Homo sapiens: one gene and its partners. The protein of the gene in region 1 interacts with the protein of each later gene in a pairwise test. Each region holds a gene or a part of one and is shown in the gene's direction. Other genes may lie near its edges. The genes, in order: JOSD1, ADAMTSL4, KRT31 and NOTCH2NLC.

The links.
Region 2: the proteins of JOSD1 (region 1) and ADAMTSL4 interact in binary tests that used the Homo sapiens proteins (3 or more experiments, as listed by UniProt).
Region 3: the proteins of JOSD1 (region 1) and KRT31 interact in binary tests that used the Homo sapiens proteins (3 or more experiments, as listed by UniProt).
Region 4: the proteins of JOSD1 (region 1) and NOTCH2NLC interact in binary tests that used the Homo sapiens proteins (3 or more experiments, as listed by UniProt).

Annotation. Positions count from the first base shown.
Region 1 is NC_000022.11:38,690,940-38,697,965, reverse strand, and holds part of JOSD1 (josephin-1), read left to right. Parts: intron 1-7,026.
Region 2 is NC_000001.11:150,552,408-150,559,433, forward strand, and holds part of ADAMTSL4 (ADAMTS-like protein 4 isoform 1 precursor), read left to right. Parts: intron 1-135; coding exon 136-193; intron 194-331; exon of another isoform or gene 332-490; coding exon 491-846; intron 847-1,018; coding exon 1,019-1,715; intron 1,716-1,721; exon of another isoform or gene 1,722-1,957; coding exon 1,958-2,060; intron 2,061-2,127; exon of another isoform or gene 2,128-2,158; coding exon of another isoform or gene 2,159-2,227; exon of another isoform or gene 2,228-2,325; intron 2,326-3,021; coding exon 3,022-3,158; intron 3,159-3,546; exon of another isoform or gene 3,547-3,645; intron 3,646-3,740; exon of another isoform or gene 3,741-3,754; coding exon 3,755-3,959; intron 3,960-4,200; exon of another isoform or gene 4,201-4,213; coding exon 4,214-4,386; intron 4,387-4,531; coding exon 4,532-4,643; intron 4,644-4,742; coding exon 4,743-4,928; intron 4,929-5,086; coding exon 5,087-5,216; intron 5,217-5,285; exon of another isoform or gene 5,286-5,317; intron 5,318-5,537; coding exon 5,538-5,742; intron 5,743-5,829; coding exon of another isoform or gene 5,830-5,885; exon of another isoform or gene 5,886-6,065; coding exon 6,066-6,242; coding exon of another isoform or gene 6,243-6,317; exon of another isoform or gene 6,318-6,341; and 4 more. UniProt on the Homo sapiens protein: Positive regulation of apoptosis. May facilitate FBN1 microfibril biogenesis.
Region 3 is NC_000017.11:41,394,588-41,401,522, reverse strand, and holds the start of KRT31 (keratin, type I cuticular Ha1), read left to right. Parts: upstream 1-3,914; 5' UTR 3,915-3,983; coding exon 3,984-4,331; intron 4,332-4,527; coding exon 4,528-4,610; intron 4,611-4,946; coding exon 4,947-5,103; intron 5,104-5,899; coding exon 5,900-6,061; intron 6,062-6,152; coding exon 6,153-6,278; intron 6,279-6,454; coding exon 6,455-6,675; intron 6,676-6,935.
Region 4 is NC_000001.11:149,456,600-149,463,625, forward strand, and holds part of NOTCH2NLC (notch homolog 2 N-terminal-like protein C), read left to right. Parts: intron 1-6,891; coding exon 6,892-7,026. UniProt on the Homo sapiens protein: Human-specific protein that promotes neural progenitor proliferation and evolutionary expansion of the brain neocortex by regulating the Notch signaling pathway.

The DNA of each region.
Region 1 (7,026 bases):
AGTTTCACCTACTAGTAAATAAATTCCAGAAACAAGATTCTGTGTATCCAGTCACACTCTGGTAGAAAAGTTTTCACTTCTGTACATTTGGCCCCTGATCTGACTATGGGAATAATGATAGGATCACTAACACACATGAACACTTGGTGCAAAGCACCGTTCTGAGTGCTTTCCTTGTGTCCACTCAGTCCTCACACTGATCTTCCAAGATGGATTCTGTTGCTGCCCATTTTTCCAGTTGAGGAAATCATGGCACAGAGTTCACAGCTATTGATGGCAGAATTTGGCCCCACGCCTTTTGACTCTAGAACCTGCCCCGCTAACCGCTCTCCTGTTTCTCGAGTACTGGAAGCGCCTGTAGAGTGCTATCAGTAGCTGTTCCTCCAGCTGCTGAGCTGGGCCAGCACTGACGTTCTGGACTGTGCTCATCAAGTGTGTGTGGATGATAACAAGAGTTTCTCAGCTTTGTTCTCCTGAATACAAGAATGCTAAATATTTGCTAAATGCCCACATGGAACTAAGATCCTATTCCTTTTGAAGCTTTAGCAAATTGTACTGCATTCCCCAATTCTAGCAGCATAATATAAAGATCCAAAAAGTGCTGGCAAGCCAGCACATAAGGGCATGTATTCTGTCCCAACTCCAGAAGTGGAATTCTGTGTAGAGTATTTTATATTGAAAGAATGTATGAGTAGGTAGGAACAAAAAATACAGAAGTGTGAAAGGAATCTAGAGGAAAAAGCAAAGGGAGAAGAGGTGAGGGAGAGAAGATGGAATTTTTTAAACAAACATTGACTAGCTGCCTGCAGAGTGCCAGGCACTATGAGGCACCATAGAGAAAACGAGTCGAACAGGCCTCAGCCCCTGAGAAGCACATCTCAGCTATGCTTTAACCAGGCCTTGAGACTAGATTTAAGTGAAGTTAGAACCCTGGCATTCAGAGCAATTAAAAAGTGAAAAGTGATCAATTTGGACCTTAGCAGATATAATTCTATGCTGTTTAAAAGTGTGGCTAGTGAATGGTAGAAATGGGAGGGAAATGTTGATAAGCACTATTTGTTGAGAGGAAGTTCATCCTAGCAGTTGAATTTTAGCCAGAAAAAAGAAGCAAAATACAAAAGCAGGGTGGAGTTTCAATAGAGTTGTGGATGTGAGATGATTCATGCTTACAAGTGAATAGGAACTCAGAGCTGAGCTAATGACTCAACATGGCGGCAACAAGGACAGGAAGAGAGGAGTCAGGTGTGTCAGAGGCTTGGTCCAGGATTTGAACATAGTGGTAACATCTGCAAAAAGAGGTCATTTGTTTAAAAAGCATCTGTTTTCAACCTGTGAAATTGGAGAAAAGATAAACTGGGCAAGTGTCATCAGTGTATATGTATACAGATGTAGATATTAGATCTCATCATTTTATATAAAGAATGTGGGCCAGGCACGGTGGCTCACGCATGTAATCCCAGCACTCTGGGAGGCAGAGGTGGGCACATCACCTGAGGTTAGGAGTTTGAGACCAGCCTGGCCAACATATAGCAAAACCATGTCTCTATTAAAAAAAACAAAAATTAGCTGGGGTGATGGCACACGCCTGTAGTCCCAGCTACTCGGGAAACTGAGGCAGGAGAATCACTTGAACCCAGGAGGTAGAGGTTGCAGTGAGCCAAGATCGCACCACTGTACTGTAGTGTGGGCAACAGAGTGAGACTCCCATCTCTCAAAAAAAAAAAGGGGGGGTATAAGGTTTGAAAAAAAGGGTCATAGAAATCAAATTACATGATGGCAGCTTTGCTAGGTGGTTTTGAAAATGCTCAGGCCTGAAACATTTTCACTAGACTCATCCCAGTTTTTTAGTGATCAGATTCTTACATCTAGTTCTGCATTCCTCTCCCAAATAGGATTTTTCCCCCCACCCGAGACGGAGTCTTGCTCTGTCTGCCTAGGCTGGATTGCAGTGGCGTGATCTGGGCTCACTGCAGCCTCCGCCTTCTGGGTTCAAGGAATCCTCCTGCCTCAGCCTCCTGAGTAGCTGAGAGTATAGACGCCCGCCACCACATCCGGCTAATTTTAGTATTTTTGGTAGAGACGGGGTTTCACCATGTTGGCCAGGCTGGTCTGAAACTCCTGACCTCGTGATCCACCCACCTTGGCCTCCCAAAGTGCTGGGATTACAGGCGTGAGCCACCGTGCCCGGCCTTGGATATTTAATATTAAAATTTAACCACGGCTGGGCTTGGTGGCTTATGCCTGTAATCCCAGCACTTTGGGAGGCCGAGTTGGGTGGATGGCTTCAGTCCAGCAGTTTGAGACCAGCCCGTGCAACATAGTGAGACCCTATCTCTACAAAAAATTTAAAAATTAGCTAGGCATGGGGGCTCGCGCCTGTAGTCCAGCTACTTGGGAGGCTGAGATAGGAGGATGGCTTGAGTCCAGGAGGTCGAGGCTGCAGTGAGCCATGTTCGTGCCACTGCATTCCAGCCTGGGCAAAAGAGTGAGACCTTATCTCAAAAAAAAAAAAAAAAAAAAACTAGGCAAAAAGTAGCTTGGTATCAAGGGAAAAAAATCTAATGAAAGTTGGAAGGAGCAAAGAGATTGGGGATATTGGTGAACAATTAGCATTCTCTACCACAGAGGATGACTATTCCAGCCTCCCCATTACATAGTCCTTGAGCAGGTGGAAGGGGCCACATTTAGAAGTATGGTGGTTATAACTGAGAAAAGTTGTTGTTAAGTATTAACCTCTAGAGACTTGAATTCTCTTGTCCAAGGGCTAGGCAAACACGTAGTAATAATAGCTAACACCTACGGATTACTAATGTGTGCCTAGCTCTTTGACCCATGCCTGATTTAGAAACATCAGGAAGTTCTGAGCCATATTTTCTGATGTCACATCTCTTCAGATCTGATAAGGAAAGAAAGAATTAGGGCGGGGAAAAGAATCTTGATGAAATGTCTCCTATCTCCTTTTTCATTAATATCCAAAATCATCACCATAGTCAGACACAGTGGAAACCATGAGAGAGGAACAAGGACTTATCTGAGGACACAGACAGTGGGGAGACCTGGACTAGAACCCGTCTTTTCACTTTTTTTTTTTTTTTTTTTTTTGAGACTGAGTCTCTCGCTCTCTTGTCCAGGCTGGATTGCAGTGGCATGATCTCGGCTCACTGCAAGCTCCGCCTCCCAGGTTCAGGCCATTCTCCTGCCTCAGCCTCCCAAGTAGCTGGAACTACAGGCGCCCACCACCACGCCCGGCTACTTTTTTGTATTTTTAGTAGAGATGGGGTTTCACCGTGTTAGCCAAGATGGTCTCGATCTTCTGACCTCATGAACCGTCCACCTCGGCCTCCCAGAGTGCTGGGATTACAGGCCTGAGCCACTGCGCCTGGCCCGTCTTTTCACTTTTACATCACTTCACATCTCATGGCTCTAACCTCTGGCTGTGGATGACAGAAGTGAGAGGCTCACTTTGTAGCCCAGAATTTCTATGGAAATCATTAAGACAGTCCCAAACAGGAGTTTGCCAAGGAGTCTCAAGAATACTTTCCACTGGAATCATCAGGATCCCATGGAACTCAGTGGGACTGGTGTGTTGAAATATCCAGAGCACTCTTCAGTATTGTCTTAGGGTAGAGGCTGACCCTAGCCCTGCCACTCACCAGCTGTGCCTGACTGTGCAAGTCACCATAACCTTTGCACCTCAGCTTCCATGTTTATGGTATCTCAAGATGGCTGGAAGTGATAAAGCCCATAAAAGCAGCTAACACAGTGGCCACTTGATTACTGTTAAAAGTACAAGCAAGTGCTGGTGTGGTGAATACGCTGGGTGGGCCCCACTTATTCAAATGACCATTCCTCTAGCATGAGATGGAAGCTACTCAATATTTCCTGTATTCAAATTGCCTAACGTGTTTATTGAGTTGCCAGTGCCTAGCTGTGAGGGATATAGAGTAAAAAACTATCCAGGGATTTAGTGTTTGATTGAACATATATGAAATAACTGAATTCTCCAACAGTCCTATAAAATAGTAATTATTTCCATTTTTACAGGCAAGGTAACAGGCATGGAGATTAAATCCCACAGTTAGTGTTGATCGGTGCTAGGATATGAACTCAGATATGTATGGTCCTCACTCTCCCTCCCTTTTTTACAGAGGATCCAGGGAAGATCCTATGGAAGAGATAGGGTGTGAAGGAGCTGTAGGATTTGGCTTGGAACAGGAAATAGGATAAAAGAATAGAGGCTGCTGGGCACAGTGGCTCAAGAGGGAGGCTGAGACAGGAGAATCAGTTGAGCCCAGGAGTTTGGGGCTACAGTGAGCCACAATCATACCACTGTAATCCAGCCTAGGTGACAGAGGAAGAAAAAATAGAATAAAGGCCATATGATCATGGTGCCTAAAGTGCACTAAGCCCAGTGAGAGGGATATAGCTGGCCAAGTGGGGCCAGGAAGTGTAGAACTGGCCAACCAGGCAGTTGGTACCATTGTCAGTTCCTATATATACAAAGGGAAGTGAATTGATGCCTTGGTGAATTTGGCAGGAACATAGAGGCTGAATTGGTGGAAGGAGCGCTTGGAAGCAAAGTGATCAATTTTTAGGAATCTGTTTCAGAAGTCAAGGTGTGAGGTAAGGAGCCTCTGGTTAGGAGAGAGATGGAGTGGTAATAGGAAAGGATTTGAATCCAAGACAGAAGATGAAGGACAGGGAAGAAAGATCATTGGAAAGCTAGTTCTGTAAGGTACACCTCAAAACAAATGTGTGGTCAAATTTGTTTGGGAACTGAAGCATATTTTATAATCCCCTTTCCTTGAGATTCAAAGTGAAGATTAGCATGTTAGGGACTCCAAGAATTCTGCAGGAAACCCATTTACCTACTTGGTTCATTCAGCTGTTATTGTATTGGATGCCTTCTGGGATCCTCTGTTAATGAACATGGAAATGGCATCTCCAGGAGCACCCTTGGGAAGCGCCGCTCTAAGGTTTGAGCCTGGTAGGGAGTTAGATGGTGAATGAGGTGGAAGACTCAGCATTTTCCTTGTTGGAGCCTTCATTCATGTACTGGTCAGAGACTTCAGTGAAAGGAACAAGAAACTTGGGAAAGGAACCAATTATATCAGGGGCTAGGCCTTCTTTCATATGTGTTCTGTTCTCTTTTTTTCTTTCTTTTTTTTTTTTTTTTTTTTTTTTGAGACAGAGTTTTGCTCTTGTTGCCCAGGCTGGAGTACAATGTCATGATCTTGGCTCACTGCAACCTCTGCCTCCCGGGTTCAAGCGATCCTCCTGCCTCAGCCTCCCGAGTAGCTGGGATTACAGGCACCTGCCACCACACCTGGCTAATTTTTTTGTATTTTTAGTAGAGATGGGGTTTCACTATGTTGGCCAAGCTGGTCTCAAACTCCTGGCCTCAAGTGATCCTCCCACCTCGGCCTCCCAAAGTGCTGGGATAACAGGCGTGAGCCACTGCACCTGGCAGTGTGTTCTCATTTAATCCAAACGTGTGAGTACCCATGGAGAGCCTTTGTCTTTTTAAGCTATGTTTCATCCCTAGTCCTCAGGGATGTAGCTGGCCTCTCTTCTTTTCAAGCCCCCATCCCCTGCCACTCTGATTCTTGGGTCCTTGCTGTAAGACAGCAAGCATAACTTTGGATTCAAATGAATCCACAGTGGAATCCTAGTTCTGTCACTTGCAAGTGCTCATGGGCAGGTCAGTTAAAACCACCAAACCTCAGTTTTATGGACCTATACAATAGAAATAATTCATATCCTCATAGGTTTATTGTGAAGATTAAATGAAATGCAAATTAAAGTACCTTATCATAGTGCTTGGCACAGAGATTTTTCAATAAGTTATAGTTATTATTACAGGTAAGATAAAGTTTGGTTGCAGATTTCTTTGCTAGCCCTGGAGATGAGCATATAAGCCCTTTTAAGAGTCAGTTACTGATGTTTACAGGGAAAGAGAAGGACAACAAAAATAAACACTGAACATTTCAGCAAACATTCCTTGAGCACCTGTCTTGTGCCAGGCACTCTTTAGGCCCCTAGCAGTGTAGCGTTCACAGATAGTCAAGGCCCCTGCTGTCAGTCTAGTGTAGAAAAACAGACCAATGAGAAACACATCTGGTAGTGACAGGGCTGTAATTAAATCAAAAGGTTGATGTGAGGTAGTGACTGGGAGAAACTTATGGTTGGGTGGTCAAGAAAAGGCCTCTCCGGAGGTTGTAGTAAGCTGAGATCACTCCATTGCACTCCAGCCTGGGCGACAGAGCCAGACTCTGTCTCAAAAAAAGAAAAAGAAAAGGCCTCTCTATGGCAGTAACATTTGACACCCAAACAATAAGGAACTACAGAAAGAACATTCTAGACAGCGGGAACAGTGAGTGCATGAGTGCACAGTGAGAAAAAGAGCTTTGTTTTTAGGGAACAGTAAGAAGGTCAGTGTAATAAAAGGTAAGAGATGAGATCTGCAGGACCTTGAGGGCCTTGCATGCCAAAGGAAGTAGTTTAGAGTGTATTTAAGTGCTTTAGGTGCCATCAGAAGGTTTTAAGCAGTGGCAGGAGTATGTTTGTTGTTTTTAATTCTGTGGGTTTTTTTTTTTTTTCTTTTTTTTTGAGACAGGGTCTTACTCTATCACCCAGGCTGGAGTGCAGTCATGGCTCACCACAGCCTTGACTTCCCTGGCTCAGGTGATCTTCCCACCTCAGCCTCCCGAGTAGCTGGGACCATAGGCACATGCCACCATGCCCGCCTAATTTTTGTATTTTTTGCAGAGACAGTGTTTTGCCATGTTGCCCAAGCTGGTCTCTAACTCCCAGGCTCAAGCGATACTCCCACCTTGGCCTCCCAAAGTGCTGGGATTGCAGGTGTGAGCCACCACTCCCGGCCAGGAGCATGGGGTTTTGTTTTGTTTTGTTTGTTGGTTTGTTTTTTGAGACGGAGTCTCACTCTGTCACCCAGGCTGGATGCAGTGGTGACATCCAGCCTCTGCCTCCTATGTTCGGCTCACTGCAGCCTCTGCCTCCTACGTT
Region 2 (7,026 bases), on another chromosome or scaffold:
GGGAAGTGATGAGTAACTTCTGCTTTCTGAGAAGTTGGTAGTCAGGATATGGGAGCCGGCTGGGGGCGGAGGGCAGTGTTGCAACACCCCCTCTGGCTCCAGTCTGACGTCCCTCCCCTGGCCTTTGGTTTGCAGGCCCTGGCTGTATCTGCTGCTGCTTCTGTCCCTCCCTCAGCTCTGCTTGGATCAGGAGGTGAGTTCTGGACAAGTGAGCAGCTGCAGCCTGCCTGCCACCCTTTCATCTCCCCCTAGGCTCCCACCCCATCTCTCCAGGCCACGCCTCCATTCCCCACAGCCCACCCACCTCCCCTGCCAACTCCCCAGTTCCTTGCCTCATAACACCAAGAGGCCGAGGTGTAGTTCTCCCTCTGCTGCTGAATGTGACCTTGGACTGGTAGCGACTCCGTGAGCCTCAGTGTTGGTCTACATGGACACTCTGGACAGTTCCCTCTAATCCTTCCAATTCTGTCTGACCTTTTTCTCTATATAGGTGTTGTCCGGACACTCTCTTCAGACACCTACAGAGGAGGGCCAGGGCCCCGAAGGTGTCTGGGGACCTTGGGTCCAGTGGGCCTCTTGCTCCCAGCCCTGCGGGGTGGGGGTGCAGCGCAGGAGCCGGACATGTCAGCTCCCTACAGTGCAGCTCCACCCGAGTCTGCCCCTCCCTCCCCGGCCCCCAAGACATCCAGAAGCCCTCCTCCCCCGGGGCCAGGGTCCCAGACCCCAGACTTCTCCAGAAACCCTCCCCTTGTACAGGACACAGTCTCGGGGAAGGGGTGGCCCACTTCGAGGTCCCGCTTCCCACCTAGGGAGAGAGGAGACCCAGGAGATTCGAGCGGCCAGGAGGTGAGAGGCCTGGGTGGAAGAGGTGGGCCTTGGGCAAGGTGGGGGCTTAGCATGAAGGAAAGGGGAGCACGGGTGGCTTCAGAGGGCTTGTCTTTGGTGCCAGGAAGTAAACTGGGGAAACAGGGTCAGAGGTGGTCAGAGCTGTGCCCCCACATCTGAAACACCTTCTCAGGTCCCGGCTTCGAGACCCCATCAAGCCAGGAATGTTCGGTTATGGGAGAGTGCCCTTTGCATTGCCACTGCACCGGAACCGCAGGCACCCTCGGAGCCCACCCAGATCTGAGCTGTCCCTGATCTCTTCTAGAGGGGAAGAGGCTATTCCGTCCCCTACTCCAAGAGCAGAGCCATTCTCCGCAAACGGCAGCCCCCAAACTGAGCTCCCTCCCACAGAACTGTCTGTCCACACCCCATCCCCCCAAGCAGAACCTCTAAGCCCTGAAACTGCTCAGACAGAGGTGGCCCCCAGAACCAGGCCTGCCCCCCTACGGCATCACCCCAGAGCCCAGGCCTCTGGCACAGAGCCCCCCTCACCCACGCACTCCTTAGGAGAAGGTGGCTTCTTCCGTGCATCCCCTCAGCCACGAAGGCCAAGTTCCCAGGGTTGGGCCAGTCCCCAGGTAGCAGGGAGACGCCCTGATCCTTTTCCTTCGGTCCCTCGGGGCCGAGGCCAGCAGGGCCAAGGGCCTTGGGGAACGGGGGGGACTCCTCACGGGCCCCGCCTGGAGCCTGACCCTCAGCACCCGGGCGCCTGGCTGCCCCTGCTGAGCAACGGCCCCCATGCCAGCTCCCTCTGGAGCCTCTTTGCTCCCAGTAGCCCTATTCCAAGATGTTCTGGGGAGAGTGAACAGCTAAGAGCCTGCAGCCAAGCGGTGAGTCTCCTCGGGCCTCCCCTCCCAACCCCGACCTCCAGTGTGGCTTCCCTGCCCTGAAGCTGGGTCTTCAGCTTCCGCTTGGCACCTGAGGGAGAAGGGCCTTGGCATCTGACCACCTCAGGGCAGGGGTCTTGGAGCTCTTCCGCTGACCTGAGCCTCCCACCTGCTCCCCAGGTTCAGCCCTGCCCCTACCCTCATTTTGCTCCCCAGCTCTGACTCCTTTGTACCCCTCACCGCAGCCCTGCCCCCCTGAGCAGCCAGACCCCCGGGCCCTGCAGTGCGCAGCCTTTAACTCCCAGGAATTCATGGGCCAGCTGTATCAGTGGGAGCCCTTCACTGAAGGTGAGGTTTCTTGCTCACCCCTGGGCAGTGGTGGCTTGGAATTGGGGATGAAGGGGAGAGGAGATACCTGCTTACTCCCAGCCCTGAATGACTTCCAGCCCCTCTGCTTCCCCTGCGCCATGCCTTCTTTCTTCTCCCTGGGGCTGGGTCAGGAGACAGCACAGGTGGTGAGTGGTCTGCAGAAGGGTCGGGGTGGGAGGAGGAGGTGTGGGAGACACGCTTTGTCCGGACTCCCCTGGGAAGGCCATCACTGGGGGTCAGGTGGCTGTGACACAAGAGGGCCATGGTGGGAGAGATCCTGTCCAGCCGTGACAGCCAGGTGGGGGTGTGCCACGCATCCTGGGCACTGTCGTATCGGTTGCTCCCAGGTTACCATCCGCTTCATTTTAGGCCTGTGTTAACTTGACACCGGGATAAGCACTCAAGAGCTCTGAACACACAGAATCATGGGCATCAGGGATTGCTCCTCTCTCAGTTCAGAGTCCCCTTGATGGTCTCGGTGACCTCAACTGACCTGACCACCTTTTTTTTTTTTTTTCTGAGACAGAGTCTCACTCTGTCACCCAGGCTGGAGTACAGTGGCACGATCTCAGCTCACTGCAACCTCTGCTTCCTGGGTTCAAGCAATTCTCCTGCCTCAGCCTCCCGAGTAGCTGGGACTACAGGCATGTGCCACCACGCCTGGCTAATTTTTGTATTTGTAGTGGAGATGGGGTTTCACCACGTTGGCCAGGCTGGTCTTGAACTCCTGACCGAATGATGCACCCACCTCGGCCTCCCAGAGTGCTGGGATTACAGGCATGAGCCACTGCGCCCGGCCCTGACCACCTCAGCTTGTGCTGTTGTCACATTTCCTTCATCCACAGTGACCTGGGCAACCTCAAGGTGCCCCCTCTGGGGCCTCTCTCAGCTAACCTCCCACCAGGGAGCCCACTAACCACCCTTCTACCCTGTCCCTTAGTCCAGGGCTCCCAGCGCTGTGAACTGAACTGCCGGCCCCGTGGCTTCCGCTTCTATGTCCGTCACACTGAAAAGGTCCAGGATGGGACCCTGTGTCAGCCTGGAGCCCCTGACATCTGTGTGGCTGGACGCTGTCTGGTGAGGGAAGACAGTGTGTGTGTGCACACACACATGCATATGCACACAGACACATGCCCCCATATGCATACACATGTACACACATATGTATGAACACATGCACACATGCAAGCACATACACACACGCATATGCGCACAGACACATGCACACACGCACACACACACACGCACACACACGCATATGCACACACATGCACATGCATATGCAGACACATGCATGCACATGTGCACACGTGCATGAACACATGCACACACACGTATGCAGACACATGCACACACATGTAGACACACATGCATGAACACATGCACACATGCACACACACGTATTTGCACAGTCTCAATTCAACAACAAAACACCATACTGAGATCACTGAGGGAGAATTCTCACCTGCCAAGCTGCGCTGAGCAGAGCCTGAAGGATCTGATCGGGCACCTGTCCATGTCCCTGGGTCTGGCTGGGGATGGTGGGGCTGTTTTTGTGCTCTCACTTGTGGCACAAAAAGCAGGGTAGTGAGCTGAGGCTCCCGAGGGGACCGGGGTGGGGTTGAGGTGGTGTCTGGCGTTCTGTGGCCACTGCCTCACCTCACTCTCTCCAGAGCCCCGGCTGTGATGGGATCCTTGGCTCTGGCAGGCGTCCTGATGGCTGTGGAGTCTGTGGGGGTGATGATTCTACCTGTCGCCTTGTTTCGGGGAACCTCACTGACCGAGGGGGCCCCCTGGGCTATCAGAAGATCTTGTGGATTCCAGCGGGAGCCTTGCGGCTCCAGATTGCCCAGCTCCGGCCTAGCTCCAACTACCTGGGTGAGCACCCAGCTGCCTCCCCTTCCACTTCCGTCTCTGTTCGGCCCTCCATACCCCTACTCAGAGCAGTGAGCAAGCCAAACAGGGGGAAGTCCAGGGCCTAGCCCCTCCCCTCGTGGAAGGAGTGAGGAAGCTGAGAGGGCTTGGGGGGATCTTAGGTTCTGGTGGGAGCTTCTATAGGCTAAGGACACGGTGTGGGAGGAGGAAGGTATTATCACCCTGGAATTTCCCGATCTCTCACCTCTGACCCGCAGCACTTCGTGGCCCTGGGGGCCGGTCCATCATCAATGGGAACTGGGCTGTGGATCCCCCTGGGTCCTACAGGGCCGGCGGGACCGTCTTTCGATATAACCGTCCTCCCAGGGAGGAGGGCAAAGGGGAGAGTCTGTCGGCTGAAGGCCCCACCACCCAGCCTGTGGATGTCTATGTGAGCCTGGGGCCAGGGGCAGCTGAATGCTGGGGAGGGAGGCTGTTCCCTCTGGGCAGAGCTGTGGTTGTCAAGATGGGAGAGAGAGCTGGTGGCATCCTCTTCTGGCCACCCCCACATATTCATTATCTTCTCTTCTCCCCAGATGATCTTTCAGGAGGAAAACCCAGGCGTTTTTTATCAGTATGTCATCTCTTCACCTCCTCCAATCCTTGAGAACCCCACCCCAGAGCCCCCTGTCCCCCAGCTTCAGCCGGGTAAGACTCTGACCCCTGCACTTGGAAGGAGGAGGGAGAGGCTGCAGGGCTGGCTCGGGGCAGTGGGGTGGCATCTGATTCGCCTGCTCCCCTGCACAGAGATTCTGAGGGTGGAGCCCCCACTTGCTCCGGCACCCCGCCCAGCCCGGACCCCAGGCACCCTCCAGCGTCAGGTGCGGATCCCCCAGATGCCCGCCCCGCCCCATCCCAGGACACCCCTGGGGTCTCCAGCTGCGTACTGGAAACGAGTGGGACACTCTGCATGCTCAGCGTCCTGCGGGAAAGGTGAGACATCACAGTGCGTTCCCCGCATCTCGGTCCAAACCCCCCAACTGACACTCCCGCATCCTGGATTGTGGGGCCACGCCCGACCCTGCGTCTGGGACACCACTGAGCTTGGGCTCTAGCCTCCTGCCTCCCTGGCTGCCTTCTCACCCACTCAGGTGTCTGGCGCCCCATTTTCCTCTGCATCTCCCGTGAGTCGGGAGAGGAACTGGATGAACGCAGCTGTGCCGCGGGTGCCAGGCCCCCAGCCTCCCCTGAACCCTGCCACGGCACCCCATGCCCCCCATAGTGAGTATGGGGGAGCCCACGGGGAGGGTTAGGGTACTGGAAACACAGCAGTTGCCCCCAGAATCTTACCTGAACTCTGCACTCAACGCAACATCTCCTGGCTGCAGAGAGACAACATTAGATTAGAAAGGCAGACATTCGGTAGGCAGCAAGAAAGCCATGGCAGGCTGAGCCCCCCAGGAACCCAGACTCCAAACGCCAAACGTGCCCACTCTCCTCTGAGGCCCCCACGTCCAGTGTGTCTTCCATCTCTGCTGCCACGGCAGCCCCACACATCTCATCTATGTCTCCGCCTCTTCCCTGCCCTGCTGGTGCCTGCAGCTGGGAGGCTGGCGAGTGGACATCCTGCAGCCGCTCCTGTGGCCCCGGCACCCAGCACCGCCAGCTGCAGTGCCGGCAGGAATTTGGGGGGGGTGGCTCCTCGGTGCCCCCGGAGCGCTGTGGACATCTCCCCCGGCCCAACATCACCCAGTCTTGCCAGCTGCGCCTCTGTGGCCATTGGGAAGTTGGCTCTCCTTGGAGCCAGGTGAGTTTGCCCAGGCAAGGAGGTGCTGGGGAGGGGAATGGGCACAGGTGAACAACAGCAGTGGTTTTTCAACTTCTTTTTCATCAGCAGAAACTATTTACAAACAGGGTTTCATATGGACCCCCAATATAGAAGTCAGATAAGGGACTGAACCAGGGACTGGGGGCCCAGGGCCCTAGGGCTCAGCCTCCTCCTCAGCCCACGAAGCCATGTGACTGCTGGGCTGGGGATCGAAGGCAGAGCCTGGTTCTGAAGCCTAGAGCTGGAAGCTGGCTGAGAAGGTCTGGGAAGCCCAGCTCCCTGGATTCCCCTCGCCCCCTCAGTGCTCCGTGCGGTGCGGCCGGGGCCAGAGAAGCCGGCAGGTTCGCTGTGTTGGGAACAATGGTGATGAAGTGAGCGAGCAGGAGTGTGCGTCAGGCCCCCCGCAGCCCCCCAGCAGAGAGGCCTGTGACATGGGGCCCTGTACTACTGCCTGGTTCCACAGCGACTGGAGCTCCAAGGTGAGCCCGGAACCCCCAGCCATATCCTGCATCCTGGGTAACCACGCCCAGGACACCTCAGCCTTTCCAGCATAGCTCAATAAACTTGTATTGATCAAGCGCCTGCTATATGCCTGACCCTGGGAACTCAGAGATAAGTGAGAACAACTTCCATGAGGGGCCCGGCTAGGATTCCTCGTCCGGGCCTGGTACCCGGGGACATTCCCAACCACCCAGGATTCGGACCCAGGATGCGTCCCTCCCTGCCCCCCTACTGTCCCTTGTGCCAGTCACCAGCAGGCCCCTCACACAGGCCGCTCTCCTCCTCCGCAGTGCTCAGCCGAGTGTGGGACGGGAATCCAGCGGCGCTCTGTGGTCTGCCTTGGGAGTGGGGCAGCCCTCGGGCCAGGCCAGGGGGAAGCAGGAGCAGGAACTGGGCAGAGCTGTCCAACAGGAAGCCGGCCCCCTGACATGCGCGCCTGCAGCCTGGGGCCCTGTGAGAGAACTTGGCGCTGGTACACAGGGCCCTGGGGTGAGGTAAGCTGAGCGCCTGCTGAGAGCAGGAAGGGGGTGCCAGTCCCAGTGGGATTCCTTGTGGGCACTTGGGGTGCTCTCTGTCCTCCCCTCCCCTCATCACCCTGCCCTCCCCCTACACTAGTGCTCCTCCGAATGTGGCTCTGGCACACAGCGTAGAGACATCATCTGTGTATCCAAACTGGGGACGGAGTTCAACGTGACTTCTCCGAGCAACTGTTCTCACCTCCCCAGGCCCCCTGCCCTGCAGCCCTGTCAAGGGCAGGCCTGC
Region 3 (6,935 bases), on another chromosome or scaffold:
AGTGATTCTCCCACCTCAGCCTCCCAAAGTGCTGAGATTACAGATGCAAGCCACTGCACCCAGTACCCGTTTTCTATTTACACTGAATACAAACATATTTCTAAATGCCCATCTTACACCTTCTAAATATCTCCTTTCCTTAACTTCTGGCTATTTCTCATACATATTGAGGACCCATCTTGGCCGGAATTGTTCATAAAAAGACATTTTTTTCACCAGAACTATGATTCTTCTGTTTAGTCATATGCTCAGCATAGAGAAGCTGTCTAATCAATGTGTTCTGAATTAAATTGAACTGGATAATGAATGTGGGTTTGATAGCCCATTGACTGCTCAATTTCTCCTTGAATGAAAAAAATTTGCAAATATTCCAACTAGGAAACCAAGAGAATACATGAATTCTACCCCTCGCCTGTGTGAGGTCATGGGGATCTTACAACCCTGGGGTCCCATTTTCCCCACTAATTCAAGGAGCAAATTCACTCAAGCCCATTGAGATCTTGAAAACACTGCAAGAAAGAGGCTAGATTCACAAGAGATGGCAGCATTGTGTTTACTCACCAGCTAGTCTGTCTGTGGTCCCCATCTTGAATTCTTGTGCCATTTCACATTCTGCAGGGCAACCAGCAGGTAGAAAAAGGAATATCTAGGAGTAACCAGAAGATAACAGGGGTTTCTTGTTCTCTCCTACATCTTCTGTGTGGCTGCTGACTGGCCATGACCTGCAGCCAGTGCAGGACTGACTCTCCCTGCTTCATTTCTCCTTTCTTCTCTTCCCACTTCTTATTCCTTCAGGAACAGGCAGTGTCGCTCCTTTTAGACTTTACACTGCCTGTGTGTAGATGGCAGTATATTTCTCAGCCACAAACAATCTCAAGCTTGATCACAGAGGTGATGCTTCGGTCTGGACAGCTTGGAACAATGTCACTTCTTTCAGAGGCCTCAGAAGCTGTAGTCCTGTGTCCATAGATCTTTTATGAGTCAACTCCATTTACGCCTTGCAGGACACTCAGCACGGTGGGCCACTCCTCAGTCTATTGGCTTATTTTGTCTTGGCTTCTTCTCAGCTTTGCATTTTCCAGGTTAGCCCCTCGGAAGCTGGGCTAACTTTGTCTGATTTGCTGCATGATGCTGAGGATTCCTCCCAACTTTTTTCCTTGTCTCTTCTTTTTCTTGTTGTCTCTCCTGGTCTCCGTCTCTTTCCATTTCTCTGATCTCTCTGCATTGTACAAAAATTCTATGTTTGCTCTCTTGTCAATACAATCCTTGAATCTTCTCATACTTAGAGCCTAAACACTCTTCTTTGACTACAGTCTCCATGAGGCTATGCCAGCCAATCAGTAGATAGGAATCAAGAGCTTGGAGAATACTGCTGGCATTTAGTTTGGGCTTAGGTTAAAGCCTGCCTGACTGGGGAAGAAGAAAGGGCTGAGGAAATAGCTGCTTGCTGGAAAGCCAGTGCTTGGAGCAGGCTGACAAGAGTTAGGAAGCAGAAGGCCTATGCTGTCATCTACAAGCTAGTGCTCATCAATCAGATGCACGAGCCTTTCCATTCATCCCAAGCCCAGATGAAATGAGACAGAAGCTCCCCACAGACAGCTGCCACCTAGCCTTGCGTCCTTCCTCTGGAGAGTCTCAGGAGTAACAGTCTGTAGACCCGCCTATTTCTCCCCCTTTAATTGTCTTGTAAGGAAACGAAAGTATTGATTTTATTATAAGTCTAGATCTTCTTTGTAGTGCTGTGGGGCTTTTCATCTGAATGGCATTATAATAAGCAGTGATAATGGTCTTGGGGAGTGTAGATGAAGGACCTTTTATCTGAGACTCAAGCAGAGTGCAACATGAATACCATCATGAAAGCTCAATGGGAGAAGCACTCCAATAAATTGTCAATAAAACGGCAGCTCTGGCTGGCAGCCAAAGCCACAGTGGAGATGGGGGTGCTGCAACTTTTATATATTCAGAACTTTGGCTACCTCTTCCTCAGATCTTCTAGTGCCTTCCTTCACCTCCCAAAGCAACCCCAAATGACTCCAGCTTGCCTTGCAAAACCCCCTTGCTCATGCCGTGCTCAGCATTTTCTTTCCTGGTGCCCAGGTCCTTGGATTTAATTACACAACCACAGAGACCTCCTTTGGTACCTTTAGACCTTTGGTTCTTAAAGCAGGTGGCATCTCCACTCGGGCTGGAGATGGGAAGCCCAGGACAGAATATGGTACATCTTCCTGATGTATCCATTTCTCTTAGAGAATTAAGCAAAGTATTTGAAAGTTTAACTGGAAATTTAAAAGGGGCTTTTTAAAAACATTAAAGCTGGCTGGGCGCGGTGGCTCACGCCTGTAATCCCAGCACTTTGGGAGGCTGAGGCGGGTGGATCACGAGGTCAGGAGATTGAGACCATCCTTGCTAACACGGTGAAACTCCATCTCTACTAAAAATACAAAAAATTAGCCGGGCGTGGTGGTGGGCACCTGTAGTCCTAGCTACTCAGGAGGCTGAGGCAGGAGAATGGCATGAATCTGGGAGGCGGAGCTTGCAGTGAGCCGAGATCGCTCCACTGCACTCCAGCCTGGGTGACAGAGCAAGACTCCATCTGAAAAAAAAAAAAAAATATATATATATATATATATATAAAGATTAAAGCCAACATGGATATATTATGGAATATAGGGTCAATTCATATGAAGTTTAAAGATCAACTACAAGTGATTTCAGGCCGTGGAGGCCCCTTTGGGCTATCTCCTGACTTTCCTAACATATCCATCTACTCTGTTCGGATACTATGGATAACCTTAGGAAATGTTTGACAAAGACCTCCTTATTCCTTTCTCTCTGCCCCTGAATATCTTTCCTAGATTATTTAAATGCATTTTTTTTGTTTTGTTTTGTATTTTGAGATGGAGTCTTGCTCTGTCACCAGGCTGGAGTGCAGTGGCACCATCTCGGCTTACTGCAACCTTCACCTCCCAGGTTCAAGTGATTCTCCTGCCTCAGCTTCCCGAGTAGCTGGGACTACAGGTGGGTGCCACCATGCCCAGCTAATTTTTTTGTATTTTTAGTAGAGATGGGTTTCACTATGTTGGCCAGGATGGTCTCTATCTCTAGACCTCGTGATCCGCCGGCCTCGGCCTCCCAAAGTATTGAGATTACAGGCGTGAGCCATTGTGCCCAGCCTTAAATGTGTTTTTTATGGCTCTCTCGGTTTGCACTTTTCAGCCTCTTTCAAAACGATCTCTTACCCCAGAAACTTCTTGTTCTCCAACTAGTTATCAAAGCCTCTACCTTTAAAATTCTCTCCTCTACAATTTTCTTAAGTAATATGTGGTGGTGGGGGGGAAGTATTACACGGACCCGTAAAACACAAATCGCTGTCTAATCTTTTCAGTCGTGTCCTCCATTGATTCTAATCATCCACCTTAAGGCTTCCAAGGCACAGAATGCTCCATCATTTGAAGATTCTTCTCTAAATGCAGAGGGAAAGACAGTCCACTGTGGCCTCTTAATGCAACTTCTTCCTCAAATCAATCCGTGTTTCTCCCTAGAAACGGCAGGTGGACCAGGACATGAGTATGTTTATGGGCCTGCAGAATTATGTGACACAAAAGAATGTCATCGGATGGATCAACACCTCAATTAATGAGGGCAGATACTTGGGCTGGACTGTGTAGCCTCTTTGAAGGCCTACCACAGAACTCTGATTTCATGGGTGGACTGTCTGCGGAGGAGTCCTGACTTAGCAAGAAGCCCAAGTAAAGAATTTTATGGGAGAAGGGACTCTTCAGAGGAAGGCAAATAACAGACTGAAGGAAAGGGCGTTTGAAAAGAAGTGAAGAAATAAAAAGAAAAAAGACATTACATACTGTGTCCACACCCTCTGCAGTGGGATATAAATGCTCCCTAGAGGAAGGAGACCCACAGCTCTGTGGCTTGGAGAATTTAGACTCTGTCTTCAGCCAGGCACTCCCTCCCTCCCTCCCAGCACTATGCCCTACAACTTCTGCCTGCCCAGCCTGAGCTGCCGCACCAGCTGCTCCTCCCGGCCCTGCGTGCCCCCCAGCTGCCACAGCTGCACCCTGCCCGGGGCCTGCAACATCCCCGCCAATGTGAGCAACTGCAACTGGTTCTGCGAGGGCTCCTTCAATGGTAGCGAGAAGGAGACTATGCAGTTCCTGAACGACCGCCTGGCCAGCTACCTGGAGAAAGTGCGTCAGCTGGAGCGGGACAACGCGGAGCTGGAGAACCTCATCCGGGAGCGGTCTCAGCAGCAGGAGCCCTTGCTGTGCCCCAGTTACCAGTCCTATTTTAAGACCATTGAGGAGCTCCAGCAGAAGGTGAGCGGCATTGCTGTCATCTCCAAGCAAGAGAGTTTGCTGTGATTCTGTCTGTGATAGAGAAGTGTGTTTCTTGCTTCTGTGCTGTCATAATTCTTGCTTCCTCTTTTATTTCAAAATGGCTTAAGTCATTTTTAAAAAGTTGATGATTTCATATTTATTTTCAGTCCTCACTAAGCCACCTCTCACTCCCCAGATCCTGTGTACCAAGTCTGAGAATGCCAGGCTTGTGGTGCAGATCGACAACGCCAAGCTGGCTGCGGATGATTTCAGAACCAAGTGAGTTGTTCGGAATTTGCACTAGTGTCAATTGCTTCTGTTTAATCTTTAAAGAAAAGGGATTTCCATCTGAAAACAGATCTACCCACTTGTTGTGAAGGATTCTGCAGAGGACTGGGGAGAACCAAGCAAAGAAATGCAAAAATGGATGAGGACTCACATCAATCTGTTTGTTTTGGGATGAATATTGGGTATTGATGGAGCCTCCAGAAACCTCTGTCTCCTGGGCCTATTCATTACAGAAAGTGGAAAGATAAGGCACATGAGGTTATCAAAAATCATTCCTGTGAGTCTTGAAGATCTACCAGGTAGTACTCTGACCCTGTCCTTGCGCAGGTACCAGACCGAGCTGTCCCTGCGGCAGCTGGTGGAGTCGGACATCAACGGTCTGCGCAGGATCCTGGATGAGCTGACCCTGTGCAAGTCCGACCTGGAGGCCCAGGTGGAGTCCCTGAAGGAGGAGCTGCTCTGCCTCAAGAGCAACCATGAGCAGGTGAGACTAGAAATGAGAAATGCACAAACCTGTCTCAGCCTCTGGCTCAGGGTTGCTTTAGTGATTTGGGGCAGCAGAATGCAGAGTATGAGTACAAGACTGAGGGTTTCCTTTGAAAACATCACGGTAAGAGAAAAATTGGAGAGAGATAAGACCTGTTCATGTTCCCAGACAGGAAACATCTTTCACTTTAAACTAGCACATTATTTGAGTTGCCCGGAGCAGCTCCATGTGCTTGCAGTTGATCAATAGTTGTAGAATGAGTCCTAGCATTGCAGTGTTATTGCTTTGTAAAGTCTTTTTTTTTTTTTTTTGGCAAAGGCCAAGAAAAAAAATATCAAACCTTATAAATGTGAGTCTCTACTCTTTCAAAGTATTGGTGAAGAGTGTTTGTGAGATTCTTCCTCTCTCTTGGGAGGGGCCATGACATGCTCTTACCTCTTACTTGACAGCAAGAGTTTTTTGATATATGGTCTGAAATTGCACAGCCTATTTTTTTTGGCATTCTGAGGTCCTCACAGCCAATTGTAAACTGGGAAAGTTGAATATCAATTAGTTCATCCTTCAGTGGCATCCAAGCAAACTTTTGGGATTTTTTTCTGAAGCCAAGTGCCATGGCACAGCAGATGGTGGGGAGGGGGCTATGCCACATGGAGTGCCTTGAGCTGTCACAAACTGCTCCACTCAAAGTTTCTTTTCCGAGAAAATAGACTAACAGGGTTTCAACAAGCAATGCCATTCCTTAGAGTTCATTCTTTGCTGAGCATAGTAACTCTTGTATTTTCTGCATCCATAGGAGGTCAATACCCTGCGCTGCCAGCTTGGAGACCGCCTCAATGTGGAGGTGGATGCTGCTCCCACTGTGGACCTGAATCGGGTGCTGAACGAGACCAGGAGTCAGTATGAGGCCCTGGTGGAAACCAACCGCAGGGAAGTGGAGCAATGGTTCACCACGCAGGTGGGCATCTAAGCACGTGGCCCCTCAGGACCCAAGGCCCCCCAGGGCCCCGGAGGCAGGGTCTGATCCTTTCTCCCCTTGGGTGTTTCAGACCGAGGAGCTGAACAAGCAGGTGGTATCCAGCTCAGAGCAGCTGCAGTCCTACCAGGCGGAGATCATCGAGCTGAGACGCACAGTCAACGCCCTGGAGATCGAGCTGCAGGCCCAGCACAACCTGGTGTGTATTGTTCAGACCTGCTGGTGAGCGACGGGAACTTGGGAGGCAGAGTCCCGGGGATGTGCTTGGGGCCACACACTCTCCTTAGCTCTTGGAGCTTGTGACTTCCTTGTAATCCTGTGAAGAAACCCTTTGAAGGAGCAGCTCTCTGACATTCCCAATCTTCTCCACCACAGCGAGACTCTCTGGAAAACACGCTGACAGAGAGTGAGGCCCGCTACAGCTCCCAGCTGTCCCAGGTGCAGAGCCTGATCACCAACGTGGAGTCCCAGCTGGCGGAGATCCGCAGTGACCTGGAGCGGCAGAACCAGGAGTACCAGGTGCTGCTGGATGTGCGTGCCCGGCTGGAGTGTGAGATCAACACATACCGGAGCCTGCTGGAGAGCGAGGACTGCAAGTGAGTACATGGGCAGACGTGTTTGATGAAATGATGCACGTGTGAGTGTAACAGTTAGACACCATGCAAATATTGCATACCTTGGAAAGGAAATTATGCCTTCACACTAGACATGCTCAAACAGAACTCAGACAACATAATATGGCCATCATTTAAAACATAAATGGTTTGGTAGCAAGAGTTGTTTGATGTACAAACTGAAATTGCACTGCCAAGTCTTTGCATTCTAGTATGATAATATGCATGACTGCATGATATGT
Region 4 (7,026 bases), on another chromosome or scaffold:
ACGCTAGAAACTCCCTGTCCCTTGTTCTGACCTCATTTCAACTCAGTCACCCAAGCCAACCTCTGAGTTGCCTTTCACCTGTCTATTCCTCCCATTTCCTCTGCTACCCTGTAGCTGAAGGCCATGTTATCTCTCACCTGGGCTTCTGAAGTAGTTTCTGAATACGTTTTCTTGCCTTTATTCTCTCCCCATCTCATTCACCCATGATATTACTACATCTTTGATTATAAATGCAAATATTCTAACAATCTCACCTGCTTACAATGTCTAATATTTTTTCATCATCCGCAGAATAAACTGCAAACTCTTTTACATGACTTCCATAGCTCTCTACAGCCTAGACTTTACATCTTTTTATAGCCTGGCCTCCCCACAAGCATCTAGGCCTAGTCACACCAAATTCTCCTTATTTCCTGAAAATGTTGTACTTATTATTGCTTCCATACAGTTACACACCCTTTTGCCTGGAATGCCCTTTTCTACAACTGGTGATTGTCCAATGTTATTTAAAACTGTGTCTTAGTGACCCTTTCATGATTCCTTTAGGCAAATGGTCTCTAAGTTTTATTAGTTTTATGTATCACATTTTATTGTAATTTTTTTTACACATATCTCACCTGAATAGATTGTGGGTTTTTCTAGGTGGGTCTGAGCTTTATTCAAAAGTGTTTATTAAATTAGATGAGAAAAGGAGGAACATTCTTCATTTTTTCTCCTGCTTTAAGCACTAAACCAAGAGTTCTATAAATGCAATAAGCAAAAAAGTGAAAAATGTACTCAGAAGACTATACTGGATCAGTTAGTGTAGAATACTGTTATATTAATTTTTCATTGTATTAGGGTTCTCTAGAGGGATGGAACTAATGGAATATATATGTATGTATATATATTCCAACCCAAAGTGTCTTGGTGGCAATCTTAATATATATATATTGGCAATCTTTATATATATATAAAGGAGAGTTTGTTAAGTATTAATTCACATGATCACGAGGTCCCACAATAGGCTGTCTGCAGGCTGAGGAGCAAGGAGAGCCAGTCTTGAGTTCCAAAACCGAAGAACTTGGGGTTCGATATTTGAGGGCAGGAAACATCCAGCACGGGAAAAAGATGTAGGCTGGGAGGCTAGGCCAGTCTCGCTTTTTCATGTTTTTCTGCCTGCTTTATATTTGCTGACAGATGATCAAATGGTGTCCATCCAGATTAAGGGTGGGTCTGCCTTCCCCAGCCCACTGACTCAAATGTTAATCTCCTTTGGCAACACCTTCACAGACACACCCAAGATCAATACTTTGTATCCTTCAATTCAATCAAGTTGACACACTCAGTTTTAACCACCACAAATCTACCCCTTGTCAACTTGAACCCATACACATCTCCTGAGATCACACATAATCTTCAAATAAAGACAATAATTAGGTCATAATTACACCTGATGTAGTACAACTATTCTTCGTACATCCGGAAACACACCAGTCCCCAACTGAAACACTCTTACATAAAGTTAACGATACTTAAATGCTGATGTGAAGTCAATAAATCTTATGTCACATGATAAAGGAGAAAGGAAATAAAATGAAGATATTTTCTTAGTACAAGTGTGTGCAAGCACAGACATGTTTTTAATAAAAGAAGGAGGAAATACTGAGGACAATTACAGTCCTCATTTCTGCAGCTGGTCACATGGTAGTAGCTGGTATTGATGACTACCTTCTTCTACCCATTTTGTATTCCTTTTGCCTTCAGCAAACACCTCAGCAGGTTGTGTTTTTTTTTTTCCTGATGGAGAGGCCCAAACCTTCATTCATCCAGGCGGGACCATTTGTAGTCCCGCCTGGATTGGGCTGTTGTAGTTGCCCATTGACCTTAATCACAGGGCATGGTAATACTAAGAGACGCCCTAATGGATCTCCTGTATTCCATGAATACTCTTTCTTACCTCCGTTCTGGAGTAGTAGACTGATTTCATCTTGATAGCCTGGGTCTTGATAGCCTTGATGTCCCAGCCAACACTGTAACGCCTTTCTTAGCCTGTTTACTTAAAGGTAGGAACCCAAAGTGTCCTGGTGGCAATCTTAACTACCAGTTTAATGGAATTGTTGTTGTGTCTTCTGGTGGCAGCGTTCCTCCCTCTGGAACTAAGACCTCTAGGCCAGCAGAACTTAATGTTGCGGGAACAGGAAGCAAACATTTTGCTAGTGGATCACTAGGGGTGATGGTGAGTGGTACCACTTCCATTTCCACCCCTTGATTCCTGGACCTGTGAATCCTGGCTATGGGAGAAACAGTACCACATATTGGACGCTGATTCAGAGCATACACAGCCTTCTTGAGAACTTTGCCCCAACCCTGCAAAGTATTCTCACCTAGTTGGCATTGTAATTGTGACTGCAAAAGGCCATTCCACCGTTCTGCTTCAGGATGTTGGGGAACATGGTAAGACCAGTGAATTCCATGAGCATGAGCCCACTGCTGCACTTCTTTAGCCATAAAGTGAATGCCTTGGTCAGAGGCAATGCTGTGTGGAATACCATGACAGTGGATAAGGCATTCCATGAGTCCGCGGATGGTAGTCTTGGCAGAACCATTGCATGCAGGATAGGCAAACCCATATCCAGAGTAAGTGTTTATTCCAGTAAAGACAAACATCTGCCCTTTTCACAATGGAAGAAGTCCAACATAATCAACCTGCCACCAAGTAGCTGGCTGATCACCCTGAGGAATAGTGCCATATCAAAGGCGCAGTGTTGGTTTCTGCTGCTGGCAAATTGGGCACTCTGCGGTGGCAGTAGCCAGGTCAGCTTTCCACCGGCCCATCTTGTTTTCTGCACTGGGAAGGTGGGGCATGAGCACAAATGTTAGGACCTGAAAGGTGGTGAACTCTGCCTGGGCAGGGCAAAGCCAGAGGAAACTCTGGTGGAGGTCCGTAGCAGTCCTGATGTGCAAATCGGTCATCCAACCTGGGTGTAGGGGCGAAAGACTAATTGAACCATCTAGTAGCTGGTTCCCTCCAAAGTTTCCCTCGGGATAGCTGGCACTCTCGCAAAAACCCCACTCTTGGTACCAATTTACTGTATTAGTCCATTTTCACGCTGCTGATAAAGATATCCCCGAGACCGGGAAGAAAAGAGGTTTAATTGGACTTACAGTTCCATATGGCTGGGGAGGCCTCAGAATTATGGTGGGAGGCAAAAGGCACTTCTTTCATGGTGGTGGCAAGAGAAAATTAGGAAGAAGCAAAAGCAGAACCCCTGAGAAACCCATCAGATCTCATGAGACTTATTCACTATCATGAGAATAGCACAGGAAAGACTGGCCCCCATGATACAGTTACCCCACTGGGTCCCTCCCACAACACATGGGAATTCTGGGAGATACAATTCAAGTTGAGATTTGGGTGGGGACACTACCAAACCATATCATTCATCAAAAGGTGTTGGTGGGGTAGAGGGTAGTTAGGATGATCCATGATCTCCATCATGATGATGATGGTATTGATGATGTAAGTCACTGAAAATATTTGGTGTTATAAGAATAATTTCTTCCTGATTGTCAGTTTTGAGTTGTTTTGCTATTAGGAGGCAAAGTAGGGGGGCATATACCCACTTAAAATATTTTAATTCTGGCTAGTGGAAATGACAGTAATGCCTTCTTCATAATTAAAATGTCACTCTGAAATGGTCCCAAATTAAGAAGGATCTCTTTTTGGTGTGTTCTGCAAGATTCTGATCACCTTTTTTTTTTTTTTTTTTTTTTTTGAGATGGAGTATTGCTTTGTCATCCAGGCTGGAGTGCAGGGCGCAATCTCGGTTCACTGCAAGCTCCACCTCCCGGGTTCACGCCATTCTTCTGCCTCAGCCTCCTGAGTAGCTGGGACTACAGGCACCTACCGCCATGCCCGGCTAATTTTTGTATTTTTAGTAGAGATGGGCTTTCACCTTGTTAGCCAGAATGGTCTGGATCGCCTGACCTCATGATCCACCCGCCTTGGCCTCCCAAAGTGCTGGGATTACAGGTGTGAGCCACCACACCCGGCCGATTCTGATCATCTTTTATACATATGCTATTTTTGTCTATCACTTTAGGAATCATCACAGATCAAGGTCATCCTTTTGGTTTTTGTGATAGCGCTATACCTCAGTCAGCTTACTAGCTCATCTCCACTCAGAGATGAAGAAGCATAGGCAGCAAGTTAGTGCCTATACATAATGTATATGGAAACCAAATTCAGGGTTGATTCTTTCTTTCTTTCTCCCTTTCTTTCTTTCTTTCTTTCTTTCTTTCTTTCTTTCTTTCTTTCTTTCTTTCTTTCTTTCTCTCTCTTTCTCTCTTTCTCTCTCTTTCCCTCTCTCTTTCTGTCTTTCTTTCTTCTCACTCTGTTGCTTAGTACAGTGGCGCAGTCTCGGCTCACTGCAACCTCCACCTCTTGGGTTCGAGTGATTCTTGTGCCTCAGCCTCCCAGGTAGCTGGGATTACAGGTATGTGCTATGAAGCCCGGCAAATTTTTGTAGTTTTAGAAAAGATGGCGTTTCACCATGTTGGCCAGGCTGGTCTCAAACTCCTAACCACAAGTGATCTGCCCACCTCAGCCTCCCAAAGTGCTGGGATTACAGGCATCAGCCACCACTTCCGGCCCAGGGATCTTTCCGTTTCAGTTGTGGGCATCACTCTGAAAATCACACTTGCTAGAAGTGAGCATTTATATCTCTTCTCCACTGTAAATAAGTGCCTCTTAGTGACATGAGTGGAAAGACAAGAAGAATTGCAGTTCCTTCATTTTCTGTCTTAGCTCCCTGAGATGTATATGCTGTGCCTAAATTTGTGTTATAGTTTTCTCCTTTGATTTGACATTCCTTGATAGGCAGAGAGCACTTTTCTGTGCTCATATGTCACATCTCGCATCTTTTTCCCTTATAGAAAAACTCTTGTGTCTCCCATTTACCTTTCTATGAGGTCAGAGATTTAGATACTTTCCTAGACAGTCAACTGGAGTATTAACAAATTCAAGGAGTTCTCGCCATCCCATTACTGGGTATATACCCAAAGAATTATAAATCGTGCTGCTATAAAGACACATGCACACGTATGTTTCTTGCGGCACTATTCACAATAGCAAAGACTTGGAACCAACCCAAATGTCCATCAGTGATAGACTGGATTAAGAAAATGTGGCACATATACACCATGGAATACTATTCAGCCATAAAAAAGGATGAGTTCATGTCCTTTGTAGGGACATGGATGAAGCTGGAAACCATCATTCTCAGCAAACTATTGCAAGGACAAAAAACCAAACACCGCATGTTCTCACTCATAGGTGGGAATTGAACAATGAGAACACTTGGACACAGGAAGGGGAACATCACAAACCGGGGCCTGTCGTGGGGTGGTGGGACGGGGGAGGGATAGCATTAGGAGATGTACCTAATGTAAATGACGAGTTAATGGGTGCAGCACACCAACATGGCACATATATACATATGTAACAAACCTGCATGTTGTGCACGTGTACCCTAGAACTTAAAGTATAATAATAATAATAATAATAATTCAAGGAGTTCTCATCTCTGTAGTTTAAATAATAAGCGACTTAGACTAATGACAACAAAAAGCCAGCCATGTGAATACCAAATTTACTAGTTCTGTGAGGATATTTTTTTCTCTTTCTCTTTCTGCCTCAAAGAATCTGCTTTGCTTCCCCTGGCATCATGATTTAGTTTTCAACCCGTCAGAGTCTTCCTGCTAGTGCTGGTACTTTCCTACTTGAGAAAGTCCACGGAATACCTTCGAGACCTCTGTCCTCCTGATGGCTTCTATTTCATTTGTTATATAGGGACCCAGAGGTCCTTCATCATTTTCAAACACATCAACAGATATTTATAGCAAGGCCACAATTAATAAAATGTTTCCCAGAATATATGTGTGTGTTACATTTAGAGGAAACAGAAGTAGTATTGACTTGTTTCTATCACCAGAGGTCTATTTAGTAACTATATTTTGTGGAAAATATCGATATATTTTATCCATTCAACAGACATGATTTGAGAGCATACCATGGAGACCCAACCCTGCCAGTGTGGCAGGTGGTATAATAGAAGAAAATAGCAAACTTGGTGTATCTGTGTTTGCGCACATGTATGTATGTGAGGGGCACTAAGGATGACTTTACAGAGGTTGGAACTTTAGAGTTGCCAAGATAGGGAGAGTTCACTAGGAAAACAGACGGGAAGTTGATTTTTTTTTTTTTTTTTTTTGAAATGGAGTCTTGCTGTGTTGCCCAGGCTGGAGTGCAGTGGTACAATCTCGGCTCACTGCAACCTCCGCCTCCTGGGTTCAAGTGATTCTTCTGCCTCAGCCTTCCAAGTAGCTGGGATTACAGGTGCGCGCCACCATGCCCAGCTAATTTTTGTATTTTTAGTAGAGACAGGGTTTCACCATATTGGCCGGGCTGGTCTTGAACTCCTTACCTCATGATCTGCCTGCCTCGGCCTCCCAAAGTGCTGGAATTACAGGTGTGAGCCACTGCTCCTGGCCCGGAAGTTGATATTCAAACAGGAGCAGCATATGCAAAGACAGCTCTGAGAGAGTAGATGGATCCAGACTCCTATTGCTGATAGCGTCCTGCAGGATTGGGCTTCAATGTGACTAACCTACAATTGCCTCCAGGTGCTCCACCCACTGAGTCCTTGTGTCTCTGCTGAGGTCCTTGGAGAGTTACTGGAGAGGGCTCTGTGTCAGATGACCTTGAGGAGGCTCTGATTTAGCCTTTAGTAAAATGCAAAGAGTTGAGGTCTTCTCCACGCAAGAGCTCGCTGATGTCAATGAGGTATTGAGGATGGGGCCATCTCCTATTTCTGTGGCCAGTACTGAGTTTTGTTATCCTTCCTTTAGGTAAGGAGTGCCAATGGACCGATGCCTGCCTGTCTCATCCCTGTGCAAATGGAAGTACCTGTACCACTGTGGCCAACCAGTTCTCCTGCAAATGCCTCACAGGCTTCACAGGGCAGAAGTGTGAGACTGATGTCA